3 linked regions of the Homo sapiens genome follow. The protein of the gene in region 1 interacts with the protein of each later gene in a pairwise test. Each region holds a gene or a part of one and is shown in the gene's direction. Other genes may lie near its edges.

Region 1 (10,113 bases):
CCACCTGGCTGTGGGGCAGAGGAAGGGGATAAACTGTGGTCAGGGATTGTGGGAGGTTTTCCTTCCTGGTACCCTGCCACGATGATGTTTTTTGCCTTTTTTATTAAAACATGAGAAAAACCTCCACCTAATGGGGGGCAATTCCTCTTTTATCAGGCAGGCTGTACTTTCTTCTGATAGTAAAAAGAACCCCCATACATTGAGCTTGTACTGTGTGCCAAGAACTGTTCTGAGCTCTTTATCTATTTTAACTCATTTAGTCCTCACACCAGCCTTAGGAAGGATCTACTATCATTGTCTCCATTTTAAAGATGAGGGCACTGAGACTTGGAGAGTTTAAGTAGCTTCCCAAGATCACACCCAGCCAATAAGTAGAAGAGCTAGGATTCAAGCCCAGGCCATCTGACTCCAAAGCCTTCAGTTTCCTCACTGCAATGCTGTGTCACCAGGGTTCCTCAACATCTTGGGACACCAAGAAATAGACTGGCAAGAGCCAAGTAATACTGATATTCTCCCCATTTTAAGCCTTTGGTCTTAAGGTAGGAAAGTTCAGCGACTTGAGTTTACCCAAGCTGGCCTGCCTTGCTCACATTGAGGGTGAACAATGGGTGGGTAGAGGGTGGCTGACTATAGCCCACAGCTGGGACCCTGCAGGGTGTTAAGACTACTGCTCCAGTAACTGGAACCAGTATCCCAGACTCTTTCTAGGATCTTTCCCAGGGCAGAAATAGCAGTCCCATGATGAAATTTGCCATATCCCTTCCCCCAACCAATTATGACCTTGCTGAAGAATAGTGATAATTTATCAGTGACCTCTCATTCCTTACAGAGGAAAAGTTGTATATGGTGGAGCCATAGGGAGAGCCAGAAAGGGAATCTGTCGTGGTGTCTGACCAGCCTCTGCTTCAGCTCTAGAGGGCTGCAGGCTTGCTGGGGCCAGGGCCGGTGCTGTGCTTGTAACCCTCCTCTTCTCCAAGAGCTGGCTTTAGGGAGCCGATGGTGTCCCTGATCTTACTGATGCAAGGCTGCAGGGCTAGGGGAGCTGTGATTTTTGTGGTAGAAGGGGCTGCCGCAGCTTCCCACCGGTGGGCCCACCCTCCTTGCAGGAGAGGAAGCAGCGGGCTGAGCTTCTGGGGCACCTGACCGGAGAGCTGGAGCGCCTGCAGAGGGCCCATGAACGAGAACTGGAGACTGTGAGGCAGGAGCAACACAAGCGTCTTGAGGACTTGCGGCGCCGGCACAGGGAGCAGGTGAGGGGCCTGGGGCAGGGTGAGCCCACTGTGACCCCTCCATGCACAGTAGGAAGGTGCTGGGAGCAGACGCATGGCCCCAGCAGGATGCAGCCTGACAGCTTCTGGAGTGAGAGTCTCTCACTGGCCATCTCCAAGCTGGGGCATCCTTGTTACTTTGTTTTCTGGGCCAGGGAACACACTCAGGATTAGAACTAGAGGTCAGCCCCTGTAAGGCATTGGGGTTGGCACCTTTGCGTCTCCTTGCCCCAGCAGGAAGTAAACAAGGTGTGGAGCCTTCCTGGGAGGCTGCAGGGGCACACAGCGAGGAAGCCTGAGCCCAGAGTGGAGGTTGTGGTGTGGCATGGTGGGTTCTGGAACCCCCTCCTGCCCCTCAGCTAATGCCTTACACTCTTTCTATGCTTATGTGTTTCCCTTTCTGGGCAGGAAAGGAAGCTCCAGGATTTAGAGTTGGACCTTGAAACCAGAGCTAAAGATGTCAAGGCCAGATTGGCTCTGCTGGAGGTCCAGGTGAGGGATCTGCAGGAGTCCTTGACCTCAGAGTCATAGCTTCTCTAGCAGAGGGCAGGCTCTGCCCCTCAGACCTGGGGTCTGCAGTCAGCCAGAAAATCCTGTCTCTTCCCTGCAAGGAGGAGACCGCCCGGAGGGAGAAGCAGCAGCTGCTTGATGTGCAGAGGCAGGTTGCTCTGAAGAGTGAGGTTTGTCTCCCTGTTTTGTCCTCCCTCCTGTTCTTCCTCCATTTCCTGTCTTTCTTCTCCCTGTTCCCCACATTTTGTTCATCTGATCTGTCCAGGGCACTGGGGTTCCAAACTCTGTTGGCCAGTATTCCACAAATAGTGCCACTCTGTGGACCCCACTTGGGAACCTCAAGGGAGTGGGACTGTGGTAGGACAGGAGCCTGCAGACCTCTTGACCTCAGAGGTGGTGACTTCAGTGGCTCTGAATTCATTCCCAGCCTGTCCTCCTTTGGCTTCCCTACCCTCTCGTGCTGTCTGCTCCCTGGCTTCTCTCTGTGCTGTCTCTGGGTGCTTCTATCTTTCCTTTTGCCCCTAGGAAGCCACAGCCACCCATCAGCAGCTGGAGGAGGCACAGAAGGAGCACACCCACCTGTTGCAGTCAAACCAGCAGCTCCGAGAAATTCTTGATGAGCTGCAGGCCCGCAAGCTGAAGCTGGAGTCCCAAGTGGATCTGCTGCAGGCTCAGAGCCAGCAACTGCAGAAACACTTCAGGTGGCGTGGGCACCCTGCACTTAGCCCTGCTGGCTGCCTCCTGCCTGCCCTCTGACCTCTGCTGCTTGTGTCATGGCCCAGTTAATAGGGAGAGGTGGAGTCCCAGCTTGGGAGCTAGGCAGAAGAGCCTGTGGCTACATTTTGTAGGGAGTTGGGGTTGTTAAGATTCTGTGAAAAGCAGGGGATCTCTGGTGCTATTGTTCGTGCCTGAGCCCTTCCTCAGGGACTTTGACGGATGGGAGTGAGGGGGTGGAGATGGTTCTGACCCACTTCACCCCTCCCCCCCATCGCCAGCCGCTGCCCTGCCTCTCACTCATCTTTCCTTCCACAGCAGCCTGGAGGCTGAAGCTCAAAAGAAGCAGCACCTGTTGAGAGAAGTGACAGTTGAGGAAAATAATGCTTCCCCACATTTTGAGCCAGATCTCCATATTGAGGACCTGAGGAAATCCCTTGGAACAGTGAGCTGGGGGCTGGGGCCTGGGGGCTGGGGCACCAGGATGGTGTGGGGCATTGGGAGGGGCTGGGCATCAGGGGAGTACTTCCAGAGGGGACAGCTCATCAGGAGGGGTGGAGCCTCAGGAGGGGAGGAGTATAAGGTGGGCCAAGGCATCAGGAAGGGCTGGCTCTGTTCTCTATGGGACCTGGTCTGTTCTTATTCCCAGCTACCAGTCGTCTCCACCAGTCAGATGATATCTATAAGTAAACAGTGCCTGGCAGCTAGAGAGCCATTTCCTTGTCTAGACCACTGGGAGGGGCTTTGGGGTCTTGAACCTGCAGGGTGTCTGCTTTTGCTACACTCAGTGGACTTTTCTACCATGTGTCCCTAGAACCAGACCAAAGAGGTGTCTTCTTCTCTCTCCCAGAGCAAGGAGGACTTATACTTGGACAGGTGAGTTCCCATAGCCTGTCTTATTTGAGGTTAGGGTACCATGAAGGGGTAAGTGAGTACCTGCATCATAGAGCTGGGGTGAGCTGAAGTGAGGAGACGGTGATCACCAGTGGGGCTTAGTTCATGGGGAAGGCTCCGGAGGATTAAGGAATCTTCTCTGGCAAGCCAAGAAACTGCCCACTGTGACCTTTGACATGGCATTCTCCTCTAGTGGAGAAGCAGATTGCTGGAAGTGTTTGGTCATCTATCTGGAGGCCCCAGGCCTGATCCCTCTCAGAGTCAGGGTGGGGGCACTGTCAGTCCCAGGCACTGCGCACTGTGGGTATTGAACAGTGGCATCCCTGCACTCACAGTGCCCAGCCCTAGCCCAGCAGCTCTGGTCTGTGCTCAGGGTTGGCATCTGCTGGGGAAGGGGCTGTGTGACCCAGAGCAGAGTTCTTAGAGGCTTCTGTTTTCCTTCTTCAACTCTCCTGCTCCAGCCTGTCCTCCCACAATGTCTGGCACCTCCTCTCTGCTGAGGGGGTAGCCCTCCGTAGTGCCAAGGAGTTCCTTGTGCAGCAGACACGCTCCATGCGGAGGCGGCAGACAGCTCTGAAAGCTGCCCAGCAGCATTGGCGCCATGAGCTGGCCAGTGCGCAGGAGGTGGCCAAAGACCCACCAGGCATCAAGGCCCTGGAAGATATGCGCAAGAACCTGGAGAAGGTCAGGAGCTTTGGGAAGGGCCTGCCAGCCCTGTGTGGGGGAGGCGGGGGGAGTCAGCAAAACAGTCCTTTGGGCTCCCCCTCAGTTGGTCATTCTCGGGACTCCATGAGAGTGGCCACCTTGGCCCTGGGTCACTTATATTTACTTGGCAATGCATAGTATGCAAACACCTTTTCTAGTAGTAAATAATTTAAACCTCATGATAACACTATTAGTCCATTTTCATGCTGCTGATAAAGACATACCTGAAACTGGGAAGAAAAAGAAAATTGAACTTACAGTTCCACATGGCTGGGGAGGCCTCAGAATCATGGCAGGAGGCGAAAGGCACTTCTTACATGGTGGCAGCAAGAGAAAATGAGGAACAAGCAAAAGCAGAAACCCATCATAAACCCATCAGGATCTCGGGAGACTTATTCACTATCACGAGAACAGTATGGGGGAAATGGCCCCTGTGATTCAAATTATCTCCCACCAGGTCCCTCCCACAACACGTGGAAATTATGGGAGTACAATTCAAGATGAGATTTTGGTGGGGACACAGAGCCAAACCATATCATTCCACCCCTTGCCCCTCCATATCTCATGTCCTCACATTTCAAAACCAATCATGCCTTCCCAACAGTCCTCAAAGTCTTAACTCATTTCAGCATTAACCCAAAAGTCCACAGTCCAGAGTCTCATCTGAGACAAGGCAAGTCCCTTCTGCCTATGAGCCTGTAAAATAAAAAACAAGCTACTGACTTTCTAGATACAGTGGGGATACAGGCATTGGGTAAATACAGCCATTCCAAATGGGAGAAATTGGCCAAAACAAAGGGGTTACAGGGCCCATGCAAGTCTGAAATCCAGTGGGGCAGTCAAATTTTAAAGCTCCAAAATGATCTCCTTTGACTCCATGTCTCACATCCAGGTTACGCTGATGCAAGAGGTAGGTTCTCATTGTCTTGGGCAGCTCCGCCCCTGTGGCTTTGCAGGGTACAGCAATGCAGCCAGAAGGCAAACCCTTCCCAGCTGCCTTCCGAGGCTGGCATTGAGTATCTGCGGCTTTTTGAGGTGCATAGTGCAAGCTATTGACGGATCTACCATTCTGGGGGTCTGGAGGACGGTGGCCCTCTTCTCACAGCTCTATTAGGCAGTGCCCCAGTAGGGACTTTGTGTGGGGGCTCTGACCCCACATGTCCCTTCTGAACTGCCCTAGCAGAAGTTCTCCATGAGGGCCCCACCCCTGTAGCAGACTTTTTTCTGGGCATCTAGGTGTTTCCATACATCTTCTGAAATCTAGGCGGAGGTTCCCAGACCTTAGTTCTTGACTTCTGTGCAGCCGCAGGCTCAACACCACATGGAAGTTGCCAAGGTATGGGGCTTGCATCCTCTGAAACCATGGGCCAAGCTGTACCTTGCCCCCTTTTAGCAATGGCTGGAGTGGCTGGGATGCAGGGCACCAAGTCCCTAGGCTGCACACAGCATGGGGACCCTGGGCCTGGCCCACGAAACCATTTTTTCCTCCTAGGCCTCTGGGTCTGTGATGGGAGGGGCTGCCCATGAAGACCTATGACATGTCCTGGAGATATTTTCCCCATTGTCTTGGAGATTCTGCTCCTTGTTACATATGAAAATTTTTGCAGCTAGCTTGAATTTCTCCTCAAAAAATGGGTTTTTCTTTTCTTTCTTTTTATTTTTTAATTATACTTTAAGTTCTGGGATACATGTGCAGACCATGCAGGTTTGTTACATAGGTATATACGTGTCATGGTGGTTTGCTGCACCCAACAACCGGTCATCTGCATTAGGTATTTCTCCTAATGCTATCCCTCCCCTAGCCCCCAACCCTGACAGGCCCCGGTGTGTGATGTTTCCTTCCCTGTTTCCATGTGTTCTCATTGTTCAACTCCCACTTATGAGTGAGAACATGCAGTGTTTGATTTTCTGTTCCTGTGTTAGTTTGCTGAGAATGATAGTTTCCAGCTTCATCCATGTCCCTACAAAGGACATGAACTCATCCTTTTTTATGGCTGCATAGTATTCCATGGTGTATATGTGCCACATTTTCTTTATCCAGTCTATCATTGATGGGCATTTGGGTTGGTTCCAAGTCTTTGCTATTGTGAACAGTGCTGCAATAAACATATGTGTGCATGTGTCTTTATAATAGAATGGTTTATAATCCTTTGGGTATATACCCAGTAATGGAATTGCTGGGTCAAATGGTATTTCTGGTTCTAGATCCTTGAGGCATCACCACACTGTCTTCCACAGTGGTTGAACTAATTTATGCTTACACCAACAGTGCAAAAGCATTCCTATTTCTCCACATCCTCTCCCAGCACCTGTTGTTTCCTGACTATTTAATGATTGCCATTCTAACCAATGTGAGATGGTATCTCATTGTGGTTTTGATTTGCAGTTCTCTAATGACCAGTGATGATGAGCTTTTTTTTTATGTGTTTGTTGGCTGCGTAAATGTCTTCTTTTGAGAAGTGTCTGTTCATATCCTTTGCCCACTTTTTGATGAGGTTGTTTGTTTTTTTCTTGTAAATTTGTTTAAGTTCTTTGTAGATTCTGGATATTAGCCCTTTGTCAGATGGGTAGATTGCAAAAATTTTCTCCCATTCTGTAGGTTGCCTGTTCACTCTGATGGTAGTTTCTTTTGCTGTGCAGAAGCTCTTTAGTTTAATTAGATCTCATTTGTCAATTTTGGCTTTTGTTGCCATTGCTTTTGGTGTGTAGTCATGAAGTCTTTGTCCATGCCTATATCCTGAATGGTATTGCCTAGGTTTCCTTCTAGAGTTTTTATGGTTTTAGGTCTTACATTTAAGTCTTTAATCCATCTCGAATTAATTTTTGTATAAGGTGTAAGGAAGGGGTCCAGTTTCAGTTTTCTGCATATGGCTAGTCAGTTTTCACAACATCATTTATTAAATAGGGAATCCTTTCCCCATTTCTTGTTTTTGTCAGGTTTGTCAAAGATCAAATGGTTGTAGATGTGTGGCGCTATTTCTGAGGCCTCTGTTCTGTTCTATTGGCTTATATATCTGTTTTGGTACCAGTACCATGCTGTTTTGGTTACTGTAGCCTTGTAGTATCATTTGAAGTCAGGTAGTATGATGCCTCCAGCTTTGTTCTTTTTGCTTAGGATTGTCTTGGCTATACAGGCTCTTTTTTGGTTCCATATGAAAGTTGAAGTAGTTTTTTCTAATTCTGTGAAGAAAGTCAATGGTAGCTTGATGGGGATAGCATTGAATCTGTAAATTACTTTGGGCAGTATGGTCATTTTCACAATATTGATTCTTCGTATCCATGAGCATGGAATGTTTTTCCATTTGTTTTTGTCCTCTCTTACTTCCTTGAGCAGTGGTTTGTAGTTCCCCTTGAAGAGGTCCTTCACATCCCTTGTAAGTTGGATTCCTAGGTATTTTATTCTCTTTGTAGCAACTGTGAATGGGAGTTCACTCATGCTTTGGCTCTCCGTTTGCCTATTATTGGTGTATAGGAATGCTTATAATTTTTGCACATTGATTTTGTATCCTGAGACTTTGCTGAAGTTGCTGATCAGCTTAAGGAGATTTGGGGTTGAGATGATGGGGTTTTCTAAATATATAGTCATGTCATCTGCAAACAGAAACCATTTGACTTCCTCTCTTCCTATTTGAATACCCTTTGTTTCTTTCTCTTGCCTGATTGCCCTGGCCAGAACTTCCAATACTGTGTTGAATAGGAGTGGTGAGAGAGGATATCCTTGTCTTGTGCCGGTTTTCAAAGGGAATGCTTCCAGTTTTTGTCCATTCAGTATGATATTGGCTGTGGGTTTGTCATAAATAGCTCTTATTATTTTGAGATACGTTCCCTCAATACCTAGTTTATTCAAAGTTTTTAGCATGAAGGGGTGTCAAATTTTATCGAAGGCCTTTTCTGCATCTGTTGAGATAATCATGTGATTTTTGTCATTAGTTCTGTTTATGTGATGGATTGTGTTTATTGATTTACGTATGTTGAACCAGCCTTGCATCCCAGGGATGAAGCCGACTTGATTGTGGTGGATAAGCTTTTTGATGTGCTGCTAGATTCAGTATTTTATTGAGAATTTTCACATTGATGTTCATCAGGGATATTGGCCTGAAATTTTCTTTTTTTGTTGTGTCTCTGCCAGGTTTTGGTATCAGGATGATGCTGGCTTCATAAAATGAGTTAGGGAGGAGTCCTTTTTCTATTGTTTGGAGTAGTTTCAGAAGGAATGGTACCAACTCCTCTTTGTACCTCTGGTAGAATTCGGCTTTAAATCTGTCTGGTCCTGGGCTTTTTTTGATTTGTAGGCTTTTAATTACTGCCTCAATTTCAGAACTTGTTATTGGTCAATTCAGGGATTCAACTTCTTTCTGGTTTAGTCTTGGGAGGGTATATGTGTCCAGGAATTTATCCATTTCTTCTAGATTTTCTAGTTTATTTGCATACAAGTGTGTATAGTATTCTCTGATGGTAGTTTGTATTTCTGTGGGATCAGTGGTAATATTCCATTTATTATTTTTTATTGTGTCTATTTGATTATTTTTTCTTCTTTATTAGTCTGGATAGCAGTCTATCTATTTTGCTAATCTTTTCAAAGAACCAGCTCCTGGATTGATTGATTTTTTTAAAGGGTTTTTTGTGTCTCTATCTCCTTTAATTCTGCTCTGATCTTAGTTATTTCTTGTCTTCTGCTAACTTTTGAATTTGTTTCTTCTTGCTTCTCTACTTCTTTTAATTGTGGTGTTAGGGTGTCGATTTTAGATCTTTCCTGCTTTCTCCTGTGGGCATTTAGTGCTGTAAGTTTCCCTCTAAACCCTGCTTTAGCTGTGTCCCAGAGATTCTGGTACATTGTGTCTTTGTTCTCATTGGTTTCAAAGAACTTACTTGTTTCTTTTCTTTTCTTGTCTTTTTTTTTTTTTTGAGACAGAGTCTTGCTCTGTCACCCAGGCTGGAGTGCAGTGGCATGATCTTGGCTCACGCAAACTCTGCCTCCCAGATTCAAGCGATTCTCCTGCTTCAGCCTCCTGAGTAGCTGGGATTACAGGTGTGTGCCACCATGCCTGGTTAATTTTTGTATTTTTAGTAGAGGCGGGGTTTCACCATGTTTTTCAGGCTGGTCTCGAGCTCCTGACCTCATGATCCTCCTGGCTCGGCCTCCCAAAGTGTTGGGATTACAGCCCTGAGCCACCACACCCAGCCTTGAGTGAGTTTCTTAATCTTGAGTTCCAATTTGATTGCACTGTGGTCTGAGAGACTGTTTGTTATGATTTCCGTTCTTTTGCATTTACTGAAGAGTGTTTTACTTCCAATTATGTGGTCAGTTTTAGAATAAGCACTATGTGGTGCTAAGAAGAATGTATATTCCATTGATTTGGAGTGGAGAGTTCTGTGGACATCTGTTAGGTCCACTTGGTCCAGAGCTGAGTTCAAGTCCTGAATATCCTTGTCAATTTTCTGTCTCGTTGATCTGTCTAATATTGGCAGTGGGGTGTGGGAGTCTAAGTCTCTTTGTAGGTCTCTAACAACTTGCTTTATGCATCTGGGTGCTCCTGGGTGCATATATATTTTGGATAGTTAGCTCTTCTCCCTTTACCGTTATGTAATGCCCTTCTTTGTCTTTTTTAATCTTTGTTGGTTTAAAGTCTGTTTTATCAGAGACTAGGATTGCAACCCCTGCCTCTTTTTGCTTTCCATTTACTTGGTAGCTATTCCTCCATCCCTTTATTTTGAGCCTATGTGTGTCTTTGCACACGAGGTGGGTCTCCTGAATACAGCACACTGGTGGGTCTTGACTGTTTATGCAGTTTGCCAGTCTGTGTCTTTTAATTGGGGCGTTTAGCCTGTTTACATTCAAGGCTAATATTGTTATGTGTGAATTTGATCCTGTCATTATGATGCTAGCTGGTTATTTTGCCCATTAGTTGATGCAGTTTCTTCATAGCATCGATGGTCTTTACAATTTGGCATGTTTTTGCAGTGGCTGGTAGCGGTTGTTCCTTTCCACATTTAGTGCTTCCTTCAGGAGCTCTTGTAAGGC
Region 2 (10,054 bases), on another chromosome or scaffold:
AATATGAGTATACAACAATAATATATTAATGGGGCCGGGCGCAGTGGCTCACACCTGTAATCCCAGCACTTTGGGAGGCCGAGGCCAGCGGATCACCTGAGGTCAGGAGTTCGAGACCAGCCTGGTTAACATGATGAAACCCCGTCTCTACTAAAAATACAAAAAAAATTAGCTGGGTGTGCTGGCAGCCACCTGTAATCCCAGCTACTAGGGAGGCTGAGGCCGGAGAATCACTTGAACCCGGGAGGCGGAGGTTGTGGTGAGCTGAGATCGCACCATTGCACTCCAGCTTGGCCAACAAGAGCAAAACTCCATCTCTGAAAAAAAAAAATTATATATATATATGACCTTGCAACAAAAATATGAGCAAATATGTGTAGCTATAATTCACTCTTCTAATAAAACCTGCAAAAAGTTAACAGTTAATGATATAATTATTCTGTGTTTCATAAAAGGCCTAAACAGGAAGCAGATCAAGAAATAACCACAATTAGAATTACTTTGTGAATGTAAACTCTTTTAGTTTCTTTTCTCACTTTACTAGGTCTAATCAATGTCAATCTTTTCTGATATTACGGTCTATTTTAATCATCATCATTAAACACAAATTGATATCAATAGGTTAAAAGGCGATAAACTCATATCTCCCAAATTGAGAGTTTTTTGCCTTGCCCGCTCAACACCGTTTTCTCTTACCTAATTCTTTTTGCTTGAAATTTCTTTAATTAGAAATCAGGGCCTGGTGCAGTGGCTCATGCCTGTAATCCCAGCACTTTGGGAGGCTGAGGCAGACGGATCACGAGATCAGGAGTTCGAGACCAGCCTGGCCAACATAGCGAAACCCTGTCTCTACTAAAAATACAAAAATTAGCCAGGTGTGGTGGCACATACCTGTGGTCCCAGCTACTTGGGAGGCTGAGGCAGGAGAATCGCTTGAACCCGGGAGGTGGAGCTTGCAGTGAGCCAAGATGGTGCCATTGCACTCCAGCCTGAGTGACAGAGCAAGACTCTGTTTAAAAAAAAAAAAGAAAATAAATCAAGGCTGGGCGCAATGGCTCACGCCTGTAATCCCAGCACTTTGAGAGGCTGAGGAGGATGGATCACTTGAGGTCAGGAGTTCAAGACCAACCTGGCCAACACGGTGAAACCCCGTCTTTACGAAAAATACAAAAATTATTCTGGCGTGCTGGCAGGTGACTGTAATCCCAGCTACTTGGGAGGCTAAGGCGGGAGAACTGCTTGAACCTGGGAGGTGGAGGTTGCAGTGAGCCAAGATCGTGCCACTGCCCTCCAGCCTGGGTGACAGGGTGAGACTCCATCTCAAAAAAAAAAAAATCAAGTCTTTTACTTAAAAGTAAAATTTTCACTAAAAAAAAAAAAAAAAAAGAACAAAGTTTCAAAAACACAAACACTTGAGGTAGTGAATATATTTGATGTGAATGCCTTTCTGTCGAAATCAGAATGCAGCTGATACTGACTTAAAGAAATGAAGCTCTCAGAGAACCCCAAGGATTTGGCCTTTGAGTATCTTTATATGCTGTATACCTCTCTTATAGCAGTTATTACAATGTATTCTAATAAGATTTGCATGTTTGCTAATCATTACATTGTGAAACCCTGAGGGACAGGACTGAATTTATTCAAATTTGCTTTCCCAGTGCCTATCAGAGTAGATGGCATTAGTAGGCTCTATAAAAACTTGTTTATGGGGGCCGGGTGTGGTGGCTTACGCTTGTAATCCCAGCACTTTGGGAGGCCAAGGCAGGCGGATCATGAGGTCAGGAGATTGAGACCATCCTGGCTAACACGGTGAAACCCCATCGCTACTAAAAATATTAAAAAATTAGCCGGGCATGGTGGCGGGTGCCTGTAGTCCCAGCTACTCGGGAGGCTGAGGCAGGAGAATGGCATGGACCCGGGAGGCAGAGCTTGCAGTGAGCCGAGATTGCGCCCACTGCACTCCAGCCTGGGTGACACAGCAAGCCTCTGTCTCAGAAAAAAACAAAAAAACTTGTTTATGGGGATTTTGTTTGTGGATTAAGTAACATTCAAATAGAAACTTATTTGCTGAAAAACTGAAAAACAGGGCTGCTTGCTGGTTTGCAGAAATGCTTGAGCACCAGTTCACTATTGAGTTTCATGTTTCAAAGCACTGCGTAATGAGTTTAAAAAAGAGATTTATTGAGATATAATTAACATAACATATATTTACCCACTTCTCATGTGCAACTCTGAGATTTGTTTCTAAAGAGAGAGATAGAAAGAGAAAAGGGCAGAGGTCTCTTTTCCTTGAGTTGCACACTGATTCACACTGTGGTGCTGTCCTAATAACAATGTGATGTAAATGACACATCTAGATCCTTTTCTGTTTGGATTATGGGAAGAAGGTTACAAAGTGGTACCTAAAGATAGGCAGAAGAGGACATAAATGGAAGGAAAGGAAAAGAAGAAAGAGATTCTTCAATATGTTATTTATTTCATGCTAGGAGAAAAGAAGCTGTGTTAAAAGGGGCTTTATGTCCTGTGTGGGGACTTTTTAATGTCTGAACTTTGGACATTGTATCTTTGAATATGCTGTAAGACTGATCCTAGAGTCTGTCTGATTCCTTTAGACTTATCCAGGGACACATCCTTAGACTTGAGTTATTCCTCTCTCTTATTTTCCCAAGTCTTACTGTATTCGTTATCTCTTGCTGCATGACCAATTATCCCAAAAATTAATGCTTAAAGCAATAGTAAATATTTACTATATCACATAGTTTCTGTGATATAGTAACACATTTTAGAAGTGGCTTAGCTGGGTAGTTCTGGCTTGGAGTGTCTCACAAGGTGGTGGTTAAGAAGCCAGCTGGGCTTTCAGTCATCTGAAGGCTTGACTGGGGCTGGAGGATTCATTTCTAAGAATGGCTCACTAACATAGACGGCAAACTGGTGCTGATTATTGATGTGATGCTTCAGTTCCTTGCCAGGGGAACACTGCATGGAACTGCTAGAGTATCTTCAGGAGAAGACAACTGGCTTCTCCCTAAATAAGTGATCCAAGAACACATAAGGCAGAAGCTACAATGTCTGTTATAACCTGGCCTTGATATTCCCACACCATAATTTCTGGAAAATCCTATTGGTTACACAGGTCAGTCCAATTCAGTATGGAAAGGAATAAATAAGAATGAGAGTAAGTGAGGTAGGGATCATTGGGGGCCATCTGGAAGTCTGGCTACCACATTTATGTATTAGAGACAGAGTCTTGCGTTGTCACCCAGGCTGGAGTGCAGTGATGCAATCATAGCTCACTGCAGCCTCGACCTCCTGGGCTCAAGCAATCCTCCCACCTCAGCCTCCTGGGTAGCTGGGACTACAGGGGCCAGCTAATTAAAAATATATATTTTTTGTAGAGACAGAGTCTCACTATGTTGCTAGGGCTGGTCTCCAACTCCAGGGCTCAACAGATCCTCCTGCCTTGGCCTCCCAAAGTGCTGGGATTACAAGTGTGAGCCACTATGCTCAGTTTATTTCTTAAAAGAGATACATGCATATATATTTGAGTTTTATATATATACTTGAGATCTATCTATATCTATAACTCAAAGGGGATTCCTAAACTCCAGTACCAGCTCTTGAATAACATATTACATTGACATTTAGCCTGACTGAAAGAGTATCTCTGGGGACAGCTCAATAATTCTAAAATGGAAAAGACTGGAGAAAAGGGGAGGCTTTTATTGCTAAGCCTAATTTCAATGAATCTGGACATTTTTTCCCTAGAAACTTTTTTTTTTTCTTTTTTAAAGACAGGGTATCTCTGTTGCCCAGACTGGAGTGCAGTGATGCGATAATAGCTCACTGCAGCCTTGACATCCAGGGCTCAAGCAATCCTCCTGCCTCAGCCTCCCAAGTGGCTGGGACTACAGGTGCATGCCACCACACCTGGCTAATTTTTGTATTTTTAGTAGAGACAGGGCTGGCTAACTAAAAATTTTTTGTGTGTAGAGACAAGGTCTTGTTATGTTGCCCAGGCTGGTCTTGAACTCCTGGGCTCAACCGATCCTCCTGCCTCAGCCTCCCGAATAGCTGAGACTACAGGGGCATGCCACCATGCCCGGCTAATTAAAAAAAATTTTAAATCCATGCTTCCGTGATCATTTTGTGTGTGTGTGTGTGTGTGTGCAGAAGGAGTCTCCTTATGTCTCCTTACATTGCCCAGTTTGGTCTTGAACTCCTGGACTGAAGTGATCCTCCCACATCAGCCTCTCAAAGTGCTGGGATTGCAGGCATTAGCCACTGTGCCTGGCCCCTATAAACTTCTTTAATTTTAAAGAAAAATATTTACAGAAACCCTAATGTTTTCTTATTCAAATTATGTGATTGGTCAATACTCTGAAATGAATGAAGTACTCTATTAGACATAGTAATAGAAAAAGTAACGTGTGGTTTTAATCAGTAGAAATAAAAAACAATTTGGCAACATCTTTATGTTTGCATAGAACAAGATGAGCTGCATCATCACTTGCCTTTAATGTACATTTTGTCCTGCTTTCAATCCAAGGATCTGGACATGACAGAGAGTAGAGATGCCTGCTGTTTTTAAAAAGAATGGCAAGAGGCTGTGGCACTTCCTGAGCAAGAAGAAACAGATTCTATAGGAACAGTTCCAAGATTGAATATAGGATTAGTCATTTACCTTTCTATATTCTTAATCAGCTTTAATGACAATGTCACTTGAGTGAAGAAAAGGATTTAAAGTAAAAATGAAGTTCATAATTCATTACATTCTTTCCATTCATGGCAGAACCCTGGGGATCATTGTGATTCTTAAGTAGAAAGGACATTAGATGTGGGGCGTATGAGAGACCTGAGTTTTGGTTTTGCCACTGATTAGTTTATAGCCTTAGGAAAGCTGTTTAGCGTTTTTCATGTGTTTTCTCTACTGTACACTGGTGGGCAAAGATGGGAGAGGTGCTTAATCTTAAGGTTTTCCTTCGCCAAAGCGACTGACACAACACTAAATAGAAACGCATCCTGCACAGCGTCCTTGCTCCGCCCTCCTCGCTTTTCTTTGAAAGTCTTTGAGCACCTCCCGCATACACTTGCTCAGCATCGCATACTGGTGTGCACCGGGGCTGGCCATTGAGTCTTTAGCTGGTGGTGTTTCACAAAGGGAATGAAATCTTGTTCTTGGGTTGTGAAACCGTAAGGACACTCCGGTCTCCAAGTTGACATTCGTTTATGGAAGTGCCCATCTCCTTTCCTCGTCACACCTAAGGCCCTTCCCCAGTCCCCCAAAGATGATTAGCTTCACGTTAGGCGGTTCTGGGGACGGCGCCAATTTGCGGGATGCTGTCAGCGCTGATGCTGAGGAAGAGGATGGATCCTTAAGGCTTGCAGGGCCTCACGATTTGGGCCCTTCATCGCGACTGCCTCAGTGTGTAATTTCGTATCGTGACAAAGCATTTCCGATTTTATTCCGAAAAGCCCAACCATGGGGTCCCAACCATCCCTCTATAACCAATTTAACTGTCACGCTAGGAGAACACCTATGTGCGCAAACTACTTGTCTCGGAAGCCCTACTTCTCTCCTCGGGACAGGCGGGGAGTTGCGGCTATGGCTGGAACTACGAGGCCCAGAATTCCTAGGCGCATGCGCGCTGCCATTGTGATGCTCCTTTCCCGGTAACTCGCCCTCTCAGGCAAACCTGAAGATAGCGGCAATTCTCCGGTGGGGGGCGGAGACGGTTTCTGCCCGACTCTCCGCCCCCTTCGTGATAGGCAATGGGACTAGCCAACCGACGCTGCGAGTTCGGAACGCACTCTCCAATCAGCACCTGTAGCGGAGAGGTGGGCGTGCGCGCTGGCAGGGCAGGTGGGCTAGGCTGTGTCGGGTTACGAGGGGGGAGAATAACGTCGGGTCGGGTCAGCGGGCTCTGCAGTAGTCGCCGCAGCGGCGATGGGAGCGGTGGGGACGAGGCGGCGGCGGCGGCAGGAGGGGGAGCAGGTGCTGGCACAAGAGCAGCGGCTTGGGGGAGCCGGCAGCAGCAGTAACAGCAGCAGCAGCCGCCGCCGCCGCCGCCAGTAAACGCGGACGGTACCCCAGGGGACTACCCAGCCGGCCGGCCCTGGAAGCCGCGCTCGGGTCCCGCCGCAGTCGGCGGTGGGGGATGGGCAGGCAGTGGCGGTCCCGCCTGCCGAGGGTTAACCCCCGCCGGTCCCGGTCCTGAGCTGGACCAGAGCCCTCCTCCAGAAACCCCTGCGTCCGCCACGGCCCAGGTAGGACACACCCCCCGACCCCCCAGGGCGCCGCCCTCCCCCAGTCTCGACCCCCTCCTCCGGCCGCACCCCTCGCCGAGTGACCGAGCCTGCTGAGGAGGGGAGGGGTACCGGGGACTTTCAGTTCGCTGCAAGCCCGGGGCTCGTGCCAGACCCCGTCACTCTCCATCTCGGAGATCGTTCTGGTTCTGCCCGATTTCCCCGAAGGCTGCCGCCTCGTTTTGCCCCAGGCTTTGGGTGTCTTCACTGAACTTGGAGGGTCACGAAGCTTCGTTCTGCGTCTCTCTCTGTGGGTGACCCACATATCACTTGTACCCATGCCACTTCTGGTACCAGCACCGAACACGAAGGATTCCTAGGAAATCTGAGCGCTTATTTCCCACCCCGCCTCCCCAACTATCATGGAAAGGAACATGGGACTACTGAATCTGTTTGCTGTGTTGTAACGACAGTGAAGGCCGCGACTTTCTTGTACTTAGGGTGCTGAAGTAATGATCTGAGGGATTTGCTCGTCATTTGCTGTGGCAGAGATGATGTTGACACCCTGGGATGCTGTGGGAGGGACAAAAGACTCACGTATATGTTCTGTCAAATCGGAGAAGTAAATAATCCATTGGGATGCCAGGATACTTTATTCTACAGCGAAGTTAATTTTGTATCCGTCGAGGCTACAGTAGAGGTAAAAATGACATTGAGTTGTACTTTGCTTTGAATTAAAGTTGATGGGTAGCAGCAATCCTGGTATTAACTCTTCTCTCTCATCGCTTTAGAAATTATTCTTTCTTTGAACATTAAAGAGGACAGTTTTATTATACACTTCTAATAATGTGAAGATGTTTTGTAATTCAGTAGAAATTGAGTTTCTGTGTGTGTAGGAGGGTCATGTTATGAATGGGCACATGTAGACACACACGCAGAGGGAGGATCCACTCAGTGTGTTTTGTTAACAATGTTTGGTTCTGAGCCATTGATAATAGTTGCATTGGTATCTAAACCCTGATTTGCCACAGTATAACACAAAGATGTGTTGGCTGTGTACCTTTGGCTAAATGGAATAGAATAAAGTTCATTTGGGGATAGAAGGGGGAAATGATTTTAACTTATCAAGGGAATTGAATGCTATGTATTGCTTGCTTTATTTCCTTTTTTTTTTTAAATAAAGAAGCAGTAATGATGACAAATATAGCTTAATATGATTAATCTTGAGGCATTTGTCTGAAGTCAAAAAATGTTTCAAATAATGTGTGTGTTATATTGTGATCTATGCAAATTGAAAACATTGAAGGAAATCTTTGATTTAGAAGCTTATGTTTTCCTGTATGATAACATTTTATCAAGACACCGAAGGGGACATATGAAGCATGGTTTTAAAGGAAAGTTTCTCTTAACATTTTTCTTTTATGATAGAATGTTAGGAAATGCTTTCTTCCCTCTTCCAGTTTTAGACACAGAAGAAATTAAAGTCCATAACTTCATTAATTTAATATATAATATCAAGTTGATGCAAATTTGTACATTGGTTAGGGGGCTGAGAATAATATATCTTGCTCATTATCTTGTACTATGGTTAATACATAATTTAGTAAATTCTCTATTGCATTATATATGACTTTAGATTGTTGTATCTTCTTTTGATTTTAAGTGTTGATTATTTTAATACTTCAGGAAATCTTCAAGAGGTTAGACCTCATTTGCTTTAGCAAATTGAACTCAATTATGTGGGGCTTCAAGTATCTTTAAATGTAATACTAGAAGGGAAGTTTGCATAATTTAGACCATTTTCGAGCGTATTTTACTTCTAAAAAGTGCACTAAAAATGTGGCAATGATAAGTTATTGGTTTTTCAAAGTAAATGAATATTACAGATCCGAGTTAGCTGTGATCATGGAATTTAAATTTCACTTTGGTGGGGGGCAGCCACTTTTTTATATGCTTTATAACTTTAAAAAGTAACATATCCAGATGACTGCTTGATTGCAACTCATGAGAGACTCTGAGCCAGAACCACCTACCTAAGACACTTTCAGATTCGAATCCTGAGAAACTGTGTGAGATAATAAATGTTTGCTGCTTTAAAAAAAAAAACCTCATGCCTGTAATCCCAGCACTTTGGGAGGCCAAGGCAGGAGGATCGCTTGAGCCCAGGAGTTTGAGACCAGCCTAAGTAACACAGGGAGATCCTGTCTCTACAAAAAACAAACAAAAATTTAGCCGGGCATGGTGGCTCACACCTGTGGTTCCAGCTACTAGGGAGACTGAGGGGGTGGATCGGAGGTTGAGGCTGCTGTGATCTGTGATCGCTCCACTGCACTCCAGGCTGGGTGACAGAGCAAGACCCCATCTCTTGAAATAAATAAATAAATAAATAAATACAAATCTATGACAAGGGAAAGTGTTTAGGATCATTATTGATCTAGTAAGGACTGTGTTGATCAGTAAAATAAAAAGTCTTTGAGAATTATGGAAAATATAGCTATAGCTTACTTCTTTCCACACTTAAAAAAAAATCCTATAGGAAATATTCTTTTACAAATATATAGCAAACAGTGTTTTCAATTTGAGGGTATGCTACTCAAAATTACTCTAGTCATGTATTCATTTTTTGTTCTTATTGAGGTTTTTGAGAGACACTCAAAATGTAGCTGGAGCTATTTCTGTTTGATTAGTAATATTGCAATATACCTTCAATATTTATGGATTTTTGAAATTAAATACATTTTATTTAGTTTTATTTCCTAGTCTTTTTTTTTTTTGTCATCCAGCATATTGTAAACAATGTGTGGTAGTGGAAGTTTTTTCCCCAGGCTTCAGTGGATAGAACCTTTTATGCCGAAAGTACTGAAAGCTTTCAAGTTAAATATCGTACATATTTGGTGAAAGAGCCTTTAAGGTCATATGAAAAAATTCAGTTTTTTAGAACTAAATTTTGAGCATAAGGACAACACATATTACTACTCAAAACTGCCTCATTAAAGTCTGGTGATCCTTGATTATAGGTTTATAATACAGATTGAAATTATATTATAACATAATATGAATGTCAATTTTGCTAGATAGTTTCTTCTTTTCAGTTGGTTATTTTTAAATAGCCTTCTTAGTATATTTTCATTAATGTCATGTGACTTTATTCTTGATGCTTAAGTGAACATATAGTACTTACAAACTTTTGTGAACATTTTGGATTTTTTTTCCTGTGATTTTTTTTTTAACCTTTGTCTCTATAATCCTTGGTGTTTTGGAGTGTTTATAGCTGTTTTTTATTGTATATAGGAATTTGCTTTCACTTCAGTTAGGGTAAAGCTTCCCAATGTGAAAAACTTAAGTGTCCTTTGAAAAGAATCTGGGATGTAATAGTGCCTCCTAAAGAGTGGAAGTTACTAAGTAGCTTCTTAGCTTCCTTTGGTAAGCTATCGAGATTTAACCATGTTTTCAGAATCATTATTTTTTTAAACAGAGAATTAACATCTTTATTGAAAACAAGAATCAGCATTTTAAAATGTTTGAATTAGAAAACATATTTGCCATTATATATGTTTTTACCAAAATGGTTTTATAATTAATATTTTTATATTTGTCTTTTTCTTTCTGCAGTTTCAAAGTAGTTGCCTTTAAAAAAATGGAGTTGCAGTTTCCATCATCTTGTTCTAGCCATATGATCATTGAAAGACTATATTTTGTTCATATTTTTCCAACATTGAATTTTCCACGTTATATATTATAGATGAAGTTTGTAAAGTCTTTTTAAATTTCTTGATCCTCCAAGTGCTTCAGTTTCAAAAATATCTAAAAG
Region 3 (9,819 bases), on another chromosome or scaffold:
GCTCTGCCCAATCACTGCCCGTGGTGAGGTGCCCCCCGAGACTGTACTTGCCGTGTCCTGGGGCCACTGCCCTCTCCTGCCAGTTTTTGTCCCCAACTGAAAGGGCCTCTTGTTTCTCTTTTTCTTGGTCCTTTTTAGGATGTATCATTGTTCATTCCCCTTCGTGAGCTCCGTCGTGTTTTATTTCCTTCTCTGCGTTCTCAGGTTGCCCTCGGAGTGGAGTCTGTGGCTTTCCACCGGAGCAGCGCCCAGGAAGTGTTTTCGTGTGATGAAAGTGTATGTCTGAAGTTCGTTATGAACTCGTCCTAGCTCCAGAGCTAGTGTGCATGCATGTCACTGGTCGTACAGATAATTGATGAGCAATTGGTGTCGTCTGAAGCAGTGACAGCCTGGGTGTGTCAGTGTCTCCAAAACGGTTCCACTGTGGCATCCTACAAATGGGCTGCGTCCTGGGAGCCATTGAGAAGTTGTACCTCCTTTACGGAGGGTTCTCTGGAATAGCAAATTAGGGAAAATGCATTCTGAGGTTCTGTATTTACAATAATAATTTATAAGCAAATAACTCACATTTCATCCTCAGTATTTTTCAGTGCTGTACAAGCGTCTTGAATTACTCTGGTAGCTTTTCCAGAAAGACCCATGACTTCACCACATTTCTCGAGTTACGATGAAGGTAGAGTCTGGGGCCCTGAGTGAGCATCAGATGCTGGAAGCTGGGGCTGGGAGGGGCCAAGCATTGGGGACAGACTCCAGACACCTGCACCACCCCCTGGCCCCATGAGATACGTTCTCAGACCTTCCCAAGAAGGATCTGTGGCTCCTCTCAGTGCTGTGAAGTGCAGGGGGCTTCCCTCTGGAATTCAGCCCATCTCTCCCTCCTACTTTGGCTGGCTCCAGATGCCATTTAGAGGAAATGTTTGGCCCATTTCCCAGGTGCCAGCTTTTCCCATGAGGAAGCTGTCAGTGCTTCCTGGTCAGGGAAATCTTTTGGGCGTGATTTGGTCAGTCACAGTCTGTTGGGGTGAGGTGGTGCGTGGAGAGGACAGGATTTGGAACCAAGGGTCCCTGGATTAGAATCCCTGCTCCATACCTCACTGGCTGTGTGACCCCAGGCTCGCGAATCTGCCTCTCTTGATCTGTTTCCTCATGAGTAAAGGGAAATGACTTTGTACTCTGGAGTGGGCCTCACTCATTCATGTGCCAGGCATCGTGCTAGGTGCTAGGGCACACCCCAAGGCGTTCGGGAAGCAGAGGCTGCCGTCCCTGGCCTGGGGCCTCCCTGCAGTGATGGGAATGTAGCCCTGGTGCCCCCACACCCTGCCCTTCAGGAGCCGTGGTTTCCTTCTGCTCTCTCCTGGGAGGCGCACACCCCTCTGCACCCAGAGCCAAGGAGGGCAGGCAGCCCTGGGACCCTCTTCAGGCACCGCAGCCAGGGTCTGTGTTACCCACAGGTCCTCTGGATGTCAGCATGGCAGCCACAAACCTGGAGAACCAGCTGCACAGCGCACAGAAGAACCTCCTGTTCCTTCAGCGGGAGCATGCCAGCACGCTCAAGGGGCTGCACTCCGAGATCAGGCGGCTGCAGCAGCACTGCACAGGTACATCGGGGAGCAGGCCCGGGCAGGCGGGGGGCGGCTATGGGGCACGGCAGAGCCCAGCGTCAGAATGTGCTAGGCCTGCCCTGCCCCCAGCTCCCATCATCGTTGCAGGAGTCCATCTGAATGCCTTATATCATCCTCATTGCATAATCAAGATGCACTAAGCATAAAGCTGCAAAGCCTTTTCTTGGCATACTGAGGACTTAAGAGATTAAAATACAATGGTTAGAATCTCCAATGTGTTTTGGAACTGATAACCAAGATATAGCCTGTGTGATACATAGAGCCAGCTGCTGGATTGTTTGGTTTGGATGGTTGGGATATGCTGTGGGGGAATGGGGAAGGGAGTTTGGGGGAACAGAGGGTGCCCTCTGACCCCAGGGAGCACAGTGGCCGCAGATGTTTTCTGCTGCTCTCATGCTCACCTCTCCTGCTGCCAAACCCTGCTCTGTCTGGGTAGGACTCGCTGGCTAATCGTGGGAATCGGTTTTGCATTTTCAAAGCTGATGAAGATTTTGAAATGTACAGTAAAAGAATTAATGTGTAACATTTCCCTTTTAGATTTAACATATGAGCTGACAGTCAAAAGTTCGGAACAGACAGGTAAGAACTCCTCCCCAGAAGTAAATGACAGTAGGTTTCCCTTTGTGGTACGTGTTGGTGCCGTTTTCACTAGTCACACACTTAGGAGAAAATGCTCTTGCTGGGAAGAGTTATGCGTGTGGCCTGAGCTCTCTAAGAGAAGATGAGAAGGATGTTTGGATCCCTCCGTGTTGCAAGTGGTTATTAGTGGGCAGGGGGATGAGTGATTTTGTTTTCTTTTGAATGACACATATATTTGGAATGCCTATTATATGTTTTTCTGATTTTCCTACAATGAACATGTGTTCCTTGTGTAATCAGGACATAAAAATAGACGTGAGTTAAACCCAAAAGGAGGAGTAACAGCAGCAGCAGCATTGGGCAGAACCGCCCCCGCTCCTCCGTGTCGCTGCCGCCTAGCATGGGCCTGGCACAGAGCAGCAGCTTGCTAAATGCTGGCGGGCGAGTGGTCACATTACTAGACAGCTCCCTGAGGATCTGGGGCTTTCTCTGGACTACAGCCCCAGAACCCTCCCCAAACCAGAATCCTCCAGGACCTCAGGAAACCCCAAAGGGCAGCTGCCTGCTGGCCGCCAGAGAAGAGACAGAAACCCAGGCCTTCCCAGGGCCCTCTGTGCCTGCTGCAAAGAGCCTGCTCCCTAAAACAGGGTGGGTGTTTGGAAAGTGCTGAATCCATGTTTGTGCAGAGACACCTGTTGGAAACGGGTTTATCACGTCGGGAAGGCAATGGATGGCTCAGCAAGGCTAGTTTACTTTCTGCAGAAAGGGTGCAACTCGCCAGCAGTCTTACCACGAGAGCACACTCAAACAAAGGAGACGAGGACATTTATAATCTTCATAACCTGATGCAATTGCCCTATGACTGTGTCCAGTTTCCATTGACTGGAATGGGACCTCACATTCTAAGCTTGACCCGATTGGCTAACAGCTTGAAACTTTCCTAAATAGGCAAAAGGGAAAGAGGACAAAGAAAAGAGGAAGCTAGTCATGAGAGGGTCAGGAGAGTTTCCAAATAAGGAAGAGCATGCACTATGGTCCAGGGCTCGCTCAGCCCTGCGCAGGCGTGCCGGGGCAAGGCGGAGCAGCTACACTGGAACATATATAGAGATATACATAGAGCAAGGAAATGACAAGCTCTTTATGGTTTCAAGAAACTTTGAAGAACTTCTCCATTCCCCACAATGCCTTTTTCTAAACAGGCCTCACAATGGCAGTTACTATTCATGAGAGTGTCCAGTTCCTTGTAAAAGACACAGACCATTTCCACCAAGCCTTAGTGGATTACCGAGCACTGATTTTTTTCCATTTGCATTGCTCATATTACAGCCTCCTGAGTGCGCCACCCAGGAGCCCAGACATCTTTTTGTCTGCGTGTGGTAGGGAAGGCGCCGTGGGCTTCTTGGGGTGGTGGAATGGGAGCCTGTCCTCAGAAGTCTCCCTGTGGAGGGATACCAGGGACCTCCCCCGAAGCCCTGGGACTGGGAGCTGGGCCTGTGGGAATGCAGAGGAACAGGATTTCAGCCTGACACTAGGGACCTCCAGCGTCCACACCTGCCAGCACTGAAGCCTTGGGAAAGGAGCTACCCGTGTCATGGAAGCCAGGGCGTCCTCGCTCCCTGTCCTCTCCTGGCCCAGGCTAATCTGAAGCAGCATAGTTTTGCCCTGTGGCCTCTCCAGTCACGGTTCTCAACCTGAGGTCCCAAGGCCACCTGCCCACCCACCCACCCACCTGATGTAGTACTCCCAGCAGCAGCAGGGTCTCACAGCAAGGGCTGTGTCTTAGGGGAGGCAGTTTCAAAAGCCTCTCAGGTGGTTCCAGTCGGGGCGTCTCCCCTCCCAGTGGTGAAAATCATTGTTTTACATTAGTGCACCCAAAACTGCCCAATTCCAAGCAGTTTCGGGACCCAGGGTACAGCATAGACTCTTGGCTTCCCTCCCCTGGGGGCTGTGACCCCAGAAGTCTGGGCGGGCCCAGGGAGTGCGCAGGTTTAGAAGCGTTGCAGTGCCCTGACGCTCGGGCAGGCTCAGCAGTGCAGCGTTTGGAGACCAGCAGCAGTTGGCTGCTGTCAGCTCAGTGTGCACCAAGCTTTCATGGGAAGACTGAAATTTCCAGAAAGGGGGTACGTACAGAGGAGGAGGTGGAGTGGAGCTTTCTATAAAGAGCAAGAAATTGGCAAAACAGGAGGTGCTGATTCCTGGGAAGGACAGTCACTGAAGCAGCTCTCCAGAGCTGGGGATGGAGGAGCAGTCGTACCAGCTCCTTCCCACAGGACGGCCCACTCAAGTCGGGGCCGGTAAACATCAGCCCGGAGCCAAGGCTGCACCCTGGAGGAGGAGGCAGCACAGCTAGATGACTCTCAAGGAAGGATGATGAGGAGGATGTCTATCCAGGAGGAGCTTCTCTCAGGATGCTGTGGCGAAAAGAACCAGAGTGATGCTTAATGAGCCCCAGATTTGGGCCTCTGCTCTGACTCGGAGGGGCTGTGTGGCCTTGGGCAGGTTCTTTGACATCTCTGAACCTGCATCTTCATCTGACAGGTGCCCCACAAATCCAAGTCCCCAGTCCGACCACCAGGGCCCTCTGCCTTTGTGGGCTGCCCCTCACAGGACATGAGCAAAGCCCAGGGACAGCCTTGTTCCTGAATGTTCCAAACGTCCATCAGCCTTTTGCAGCACTGCCTGGGGGAAGAAAAATCCCAGGATGCTCACAGCAGGCCAGGGATGTGGTTGAAGGTCTGAGGTTGCAGCCCTTCCTCGGAAGGAGCCCAAGGCCCACTGTCCACCCGAGTGTGGGCTGAAAGCAAAGGCCCTGCGACAGGCATGGGTTGTTGTCCCACAGGCCCTGGGGGAAGGACAGCGGGTACCAGGCCCAATGCCGTGCCCAGGTCAGCATTTCAGGTTGCAGGGGTTCAGCCCAGGTGGCTGGGCTCCTGGGTCTTACAGTGTCTACAGAGTCGTGTGTGTGTCTCTGTCCCTCTCTCTACCTCTGAAACTGTGTTTTAGGATCTATTTTCCTTTTGGCAAAAGAAGAAACCTCATGAAAGGTAGTACTGCATGCATCCTTTTTAGGGAGGTCATTTGCTGACATTATACCTGCACATACACACACAGACACATGGTTTTTAAAACTAGAAACTTGCAATGGTTCAACTTAAAATTTTTCAACTGCATGGGGCAATACCCATTCAGTACACTCCTCGACTTACCATGGATATGTCCAGATAAACCCATGGTAAGCTGAAAATATCGAAAACACACTTTTGACTTACGGTATTTTCAACTTACATTGGATTTTTCGGGACATGACCCCATGCTAAGTCGAGGAGCGCCCATCACCTGCAGCGAGCTTGTAACATGCAAGTGTCCTGCACAAGACCAGTCCAGTCAGCTGTGGGCCCTCAAAAGCTCAGAGTCTGGCGGCGGGACATGCTGCAGAGCTGCTGCTAGCTCAGGCAGGTGGGAAAATTCAAAGCAAGACAGACAGAAGCCCGGGAAAGACGTCCAGTGGCGTCCAGTGCCTAGGCAGGCCCTGGGTGGTGGAGTTGGTACAGGGAAACTGGGCGTGCAGGTCTGGAGTTAGGGCAAGGACAGAGGGTACAATAGAGACAGAACAAGAGGTGGTGGCTTGGGGAGAGTGATGGAAGCTTTGATTTATGTGGGAGCAGATAACATTCAGGACAGATTGAGGAACTGGAAGGCATCTGGCAGTTTGGGTTTTATTAGGCAGTGAGGAACCATTTTGAACAGAGGACAAGAATATTTAGGGGGTGACCAAGCTTCCTAAATACAGGATGGGCTGAAACGAAGACCAGAGAGGAGGTGGGACCAAGGCCGGCTGGAGGAGCAGGGAGGGGGCAGCACTGAGCAGCCAGCAGAAAGGCACAGTCAGGGAGGGGAGGCCAGGGATGGCGACTGCATCCAGTTTCCCTGGGAGAGTCAAGATGTGGGAAGCAGAGCAGCTATCTGGACTTGAGGGTGTGTCTGACGGACACTCACTTGGAGAAGTGGTGCTCAGGAGACACTGAATCGGGAGCTGATGCTCAAGTTGAATTCCAGACCAGCAAGGAAGAGTCTAGAAAGAACTTCCCAGGGGCCAGGCAAGGAGGATGGCCAGCCAGCCAGCGTTAGGAGGAGTAGGATGGTGACCCAGGGTTTAGAGCCAAGGGTGCTATGTGAGGTGACCAGGGACTGCAGGTCACCAGAAGAGCAGGAGAAGGAGGTGGCTGGTGTTTGCTGAAGGACTGGGTGAGGGCAGGCACCCAGGGACAGCAAAAGGAGGCAGAGGCCCGAAGTGTTAGGGCAGGGGCAGGGAGGGACCAAGGGTAAGAGCCACAGAGGCGAGACAGCTCACTCTCTGAGCAGGAAGTGGGAAAGAGTCTGTGTGTGTGTGTGTGTGAGAGAGACGGGGGTAGGGGGGTGAGAGAGGCGGCCAGCGGCAGAGCAAAGGTGACAGCCCCACACCTCTTCTCCTCTAAACATCAGAATTTTAATTCAATAGACATGGATAATTCTTTTTACATTTGAGTTTCAAAACAGTACTTTGAATGTAGCAGGCATTCCATAAATGCCATCTGAGCAGACAGAGGGATTTGCGGCCAGTTGAATCCTAAGTGTTTGCTGAGGTCTGATACTCTGCAATTGCCTGTTTTAAGTTCAGCATCTTTAAGGTTCAGAGACATTCTTTTATGCAGTAGGCCAGAGAACTAAGAGCCGGAAAGGGCCTCTGAGATGCCCCGATCTCCCCACCTCGGGGAGGGGAGGGGTCTTTCCAGAGCCCCCACAGCCCTGCCTTCTGCATGGCCCCCACAGCCTAGACAGGGCCCCCACCAGACAGGTCCGCCTGCCCCATAGGCCTCACCACTCGGCCTCAGTCTAATGAGTTCTTCACCTGCTTCCTCGGCTTATTCTTGTAGGAGACGGGACTTCTAAAAGCAGTGAATTAAAGAAAAGATGTGAAGAGCTGGAAGCCCAACTGAAAGTGAAAGAGAACGAAAATGCTGAGTTGTTGAAAGAACTGGAGCAGAAAAACGCGATGATCACAGTGCTGGAGAACACCATCAAGGAGCGAGAGAAGAAGTACCTGGAGGAGCTGAAGGCCAAGAGTCACAAGCTGACCCTGCTGTCTAGCGAGCTGGAGCAGCGGGCCAGCACCATCGCCTACCTGACCTCCCAGCTGCACGCCGCCAAGAAGAAGCTCATGAGCTCCAGCGGGACCTCAGATGCCAGCCCGTCAGGGAGCCCCGTGCTGGCCAGCTACAAGCCAGCGCCCCCCAAAGACAAGCTACCCGAAACGCCTCGCCGCCGCATGAAAAAGAGCCTCTCAGCCCCCTTGCACCCGGAATTTGAAGAGGTCTACAGATTCGGGGCAGAGAGCAGGAAACTCCTTTTGCGGGAACCAGTGGATGCTATGCCCGACCCCACCCCATTTCTGCTGGCTAGGGAGTCCGCCGAGGTCCACCTCATCAAAGAGAGGCCCCTCGTCATCCCCCCCATCGCCTCCGACCGAAGCGGCGAGCAGCACAGCCCGGCCCGCGAAAAGCCGCACAAGGCCCACGTCGGGGTGGCACATCGGATCCACCACGCCACCCCGCCGCAGGCCCAGCCCGAGGTGAAGACCCTGGCGGTCGACCAGGTGAACGGAGGCAAGGTGGTGAGGAAGCACTCAGGGACGGACAGAACTGTGTGAAGCCCGCCGTGCCCCACCCCGCGCTGTCCATGCACTGTGAGCACCACTGGGAAATCTCAGCCACACCTTTTCTGTTTAATCCCATGCATGCCAAACACTTTTCACACCTACCGACCCATTCTCCTTCTGCTTCTCTTGCCCTCTTCTTCACACCAAAATATGATCGTGTCCCTGCCGCAGAATATGTATTTCCTAATTGCTGTGGCCAAACGCCTGTGTGCCGAATCGCTTGCTTCTGATCCCGCTCCGTGTAACCTAAGTGCGCTGCAGGCAAAGCCCAGGCCACGGCTGCGTCACTACTGATGTTCACGATGCCACACAGTCACACACCTAATTCATTCTCAAGTCGGAGCAACACATACCAACCTTGACCTTATCCTCAAGCTCCAGGGCAGCCTGGCCGAGCAGCCCCTGCTCCCTCCTGGAGACCCTTGTCACCTCCCGAGCTCCTCCTGGAGACCCCTGTCACCTCCTGACCAACCTTTCCCAGGGCGGCACCGATCACCGAGCAGCCGTGCGTGTATCTCAAGGAACTAAATAAGATGACGCTACTCCTCATAGCACCACAACCTGAATGTGTGTTCATATTTTTTTGTTAGTTTTATCCAAAATGTTTAAGATCCCAACAAACTTTATTTTCTAAACCTGCCTTCCTTCTGTTTTGTGTCTTTTATTAAACAAACACCTGAAGGAGGGCTAGGAGACTGCAGGAGGGAGAGCAATCACAGGTCCCAGAAGCGACTCCGGCCTCCTCCCGGCCCAGAGCTAGTCCTTAGAATGTGCTGCGCTCCTGAGCTTCTGTGGGAAGCTGCTTTTGCCTCTGATGGCCCCTGCCCACTGTGCTGCCCGTGCTAGCCCCTCTCCTCCCTCATGGAGTGAAGCCACCCCTCACCTCCAGGTGGCCAGCCAGGGCTCCAGGCCAGCCTCATGGTGCACAGAGGGAAGGGGTGCCCAGTGACCACTGGTCCTGGAGGTTCTGTGTCCTTACCTGACCCCACACAGACCCAGGCAGGCTGGGGGTAGAAGCTCATGCAGGAACTAAACACTAAGCTCAACAACTTCACAGTCGCCGTAGCAGGTCAGAGCCAAAGAAGCTAGGGCCAGAGAGTTCTGGAAGGGGGAGAAGTGGCTCCAGGTGACTGGTCACTTCTGCTCTGTGCCCGACATCATCAGCCCTTCTTGCCAAAAAGGAGCATCTGCTGAAACAGACCTGGATCATCGAAAACACACCTTTGGAAATTACATTAGGATTCTCACTTGTGCCAATGCTATGTATGCCAGGCACTTTTGCCTAATCAAGTGTTTTCTCTGAGAAGGAAAAGAAAACTCCACACATCTTAAAATACTCTCCAATATTTACTTTTTGATTATATAAATTCCTTTTAAAAAGTAGTATTAAAAACAAAACCATTCAGGTTAATTTGTATGGAAAGAGATTTAAGTGGCTGATTTCAAATGAAAAATCAGTGTCAGTCCCCCTCCTGCCTCTTGAGAGGCCCCAAGAAATGACAGCAGACCCGATCACTCTGACAACCCCAGGCTCCGAATTCATTAAGCAGTTTTCTTCACCCAAAGGTTAATCAGAATTCAGGGTGAGGCATACTCCTTGCAGCACCCAGTGAGAAATGTGCCTCGTGGTAAAGAGATCAGCTTCAAAAACCAAGCCGACTCCCATGGCGTTCCTTCTCATGGAGGTGGTGTAGACGGGGGTCCGGAAAGTATTCTGCAAGGGAAAGGCAGGTGAGATGCCCCCACGGAGAGAGGGTGCAGAGGGATAAAGGCAGAGGTGCAGTGTAAGTCTTGACAGGCAGGGGCCCCTGTGCAAGACTGCACCTGAGAACACGCACAAGGCTGGGGCTGCTCAGGGCCACCCTCCGCCAGCTTCACGGGGACCTGGCTTCACACTGACACCCTGGTTAAAAGTGGGTCCTG

What was found.
Region 2: the proteins of CEP164 (region 1) and TTBK2 interact in binary tests that used the Homo sapiens proteins (3 or more experiments, as listed by UniProt).
Region 3: the proteins of CEP164 (region 1) and CCDC92 interact in binary tests that used the Homo sapiens proteins (3 or more experiments, as listed by UniProt).

The regions. Positions count from the first base shown.
Region 1 is NC_000011.10:117,393,244-117,403,356, forward strand, and holds part of CEP164 (centrosomal protein of 164 kDa), read left to right. Parts: intron 1-1,106; coding exon 1,107-1,250; intron 1,251-1,676; coding exon 1,677-1,760; intron 1,761-1,879; coding exon 1,880-1,948; intron 1,949-2,303; coding exon 2,304-2,479; intron 2,480-2,810; coding exon 2,811-2,937; intron 2,938-3,306; coding exon 3,307-3,368; intron 3,369-3,847; coding exon 3,848-4,070; intron 4,071-10,113. UniProt on the Homo sapiens protein: Plays a role in microtubule organization and/or maintenance for the formation of primary cilia (PC), a microtubule-based structure that protrudes from the surface of epithelial cells. Plays a critical role in G2/M checkpoint and nuclear divisions.
Region 2 is NC_000015.10:42,916,648-42,926,701, reverse strand, and holds the start of TTBK2 (tau-tubulin kinase 2), read left to right. Parts: upstream 1-5,923; 5' UTR 5,924-6,264; exon of another isoform or gene 6,265-6,844; coding exon of another isoform or gene 6,845-6,943; intron 6,944-10,054.
Region 3 is NC_000012.12:123,935,126-123,944,944, reverse strand, and holds the end of CCDC92 (coiled-coil domain-containing protein 92), read left to right. Parts: intron 1-204; exon of another isoform or gene 205-276; intron 277-580; 5' UTR 581-639; coding exon 640-673; intron 674-1,451; coding exon 1,452-1,598; intron 1,599-2,159; coding exon 2,160-2,201; intron 2,202-7,114; coding exon 7,115-7,887; 3' UTR 7,888-9,319; downstream 9,320-9,819. Other genes in the region: DNAH10 (dynein axonemal heavy chain 10), read right to left, coding at 9,464-9,610.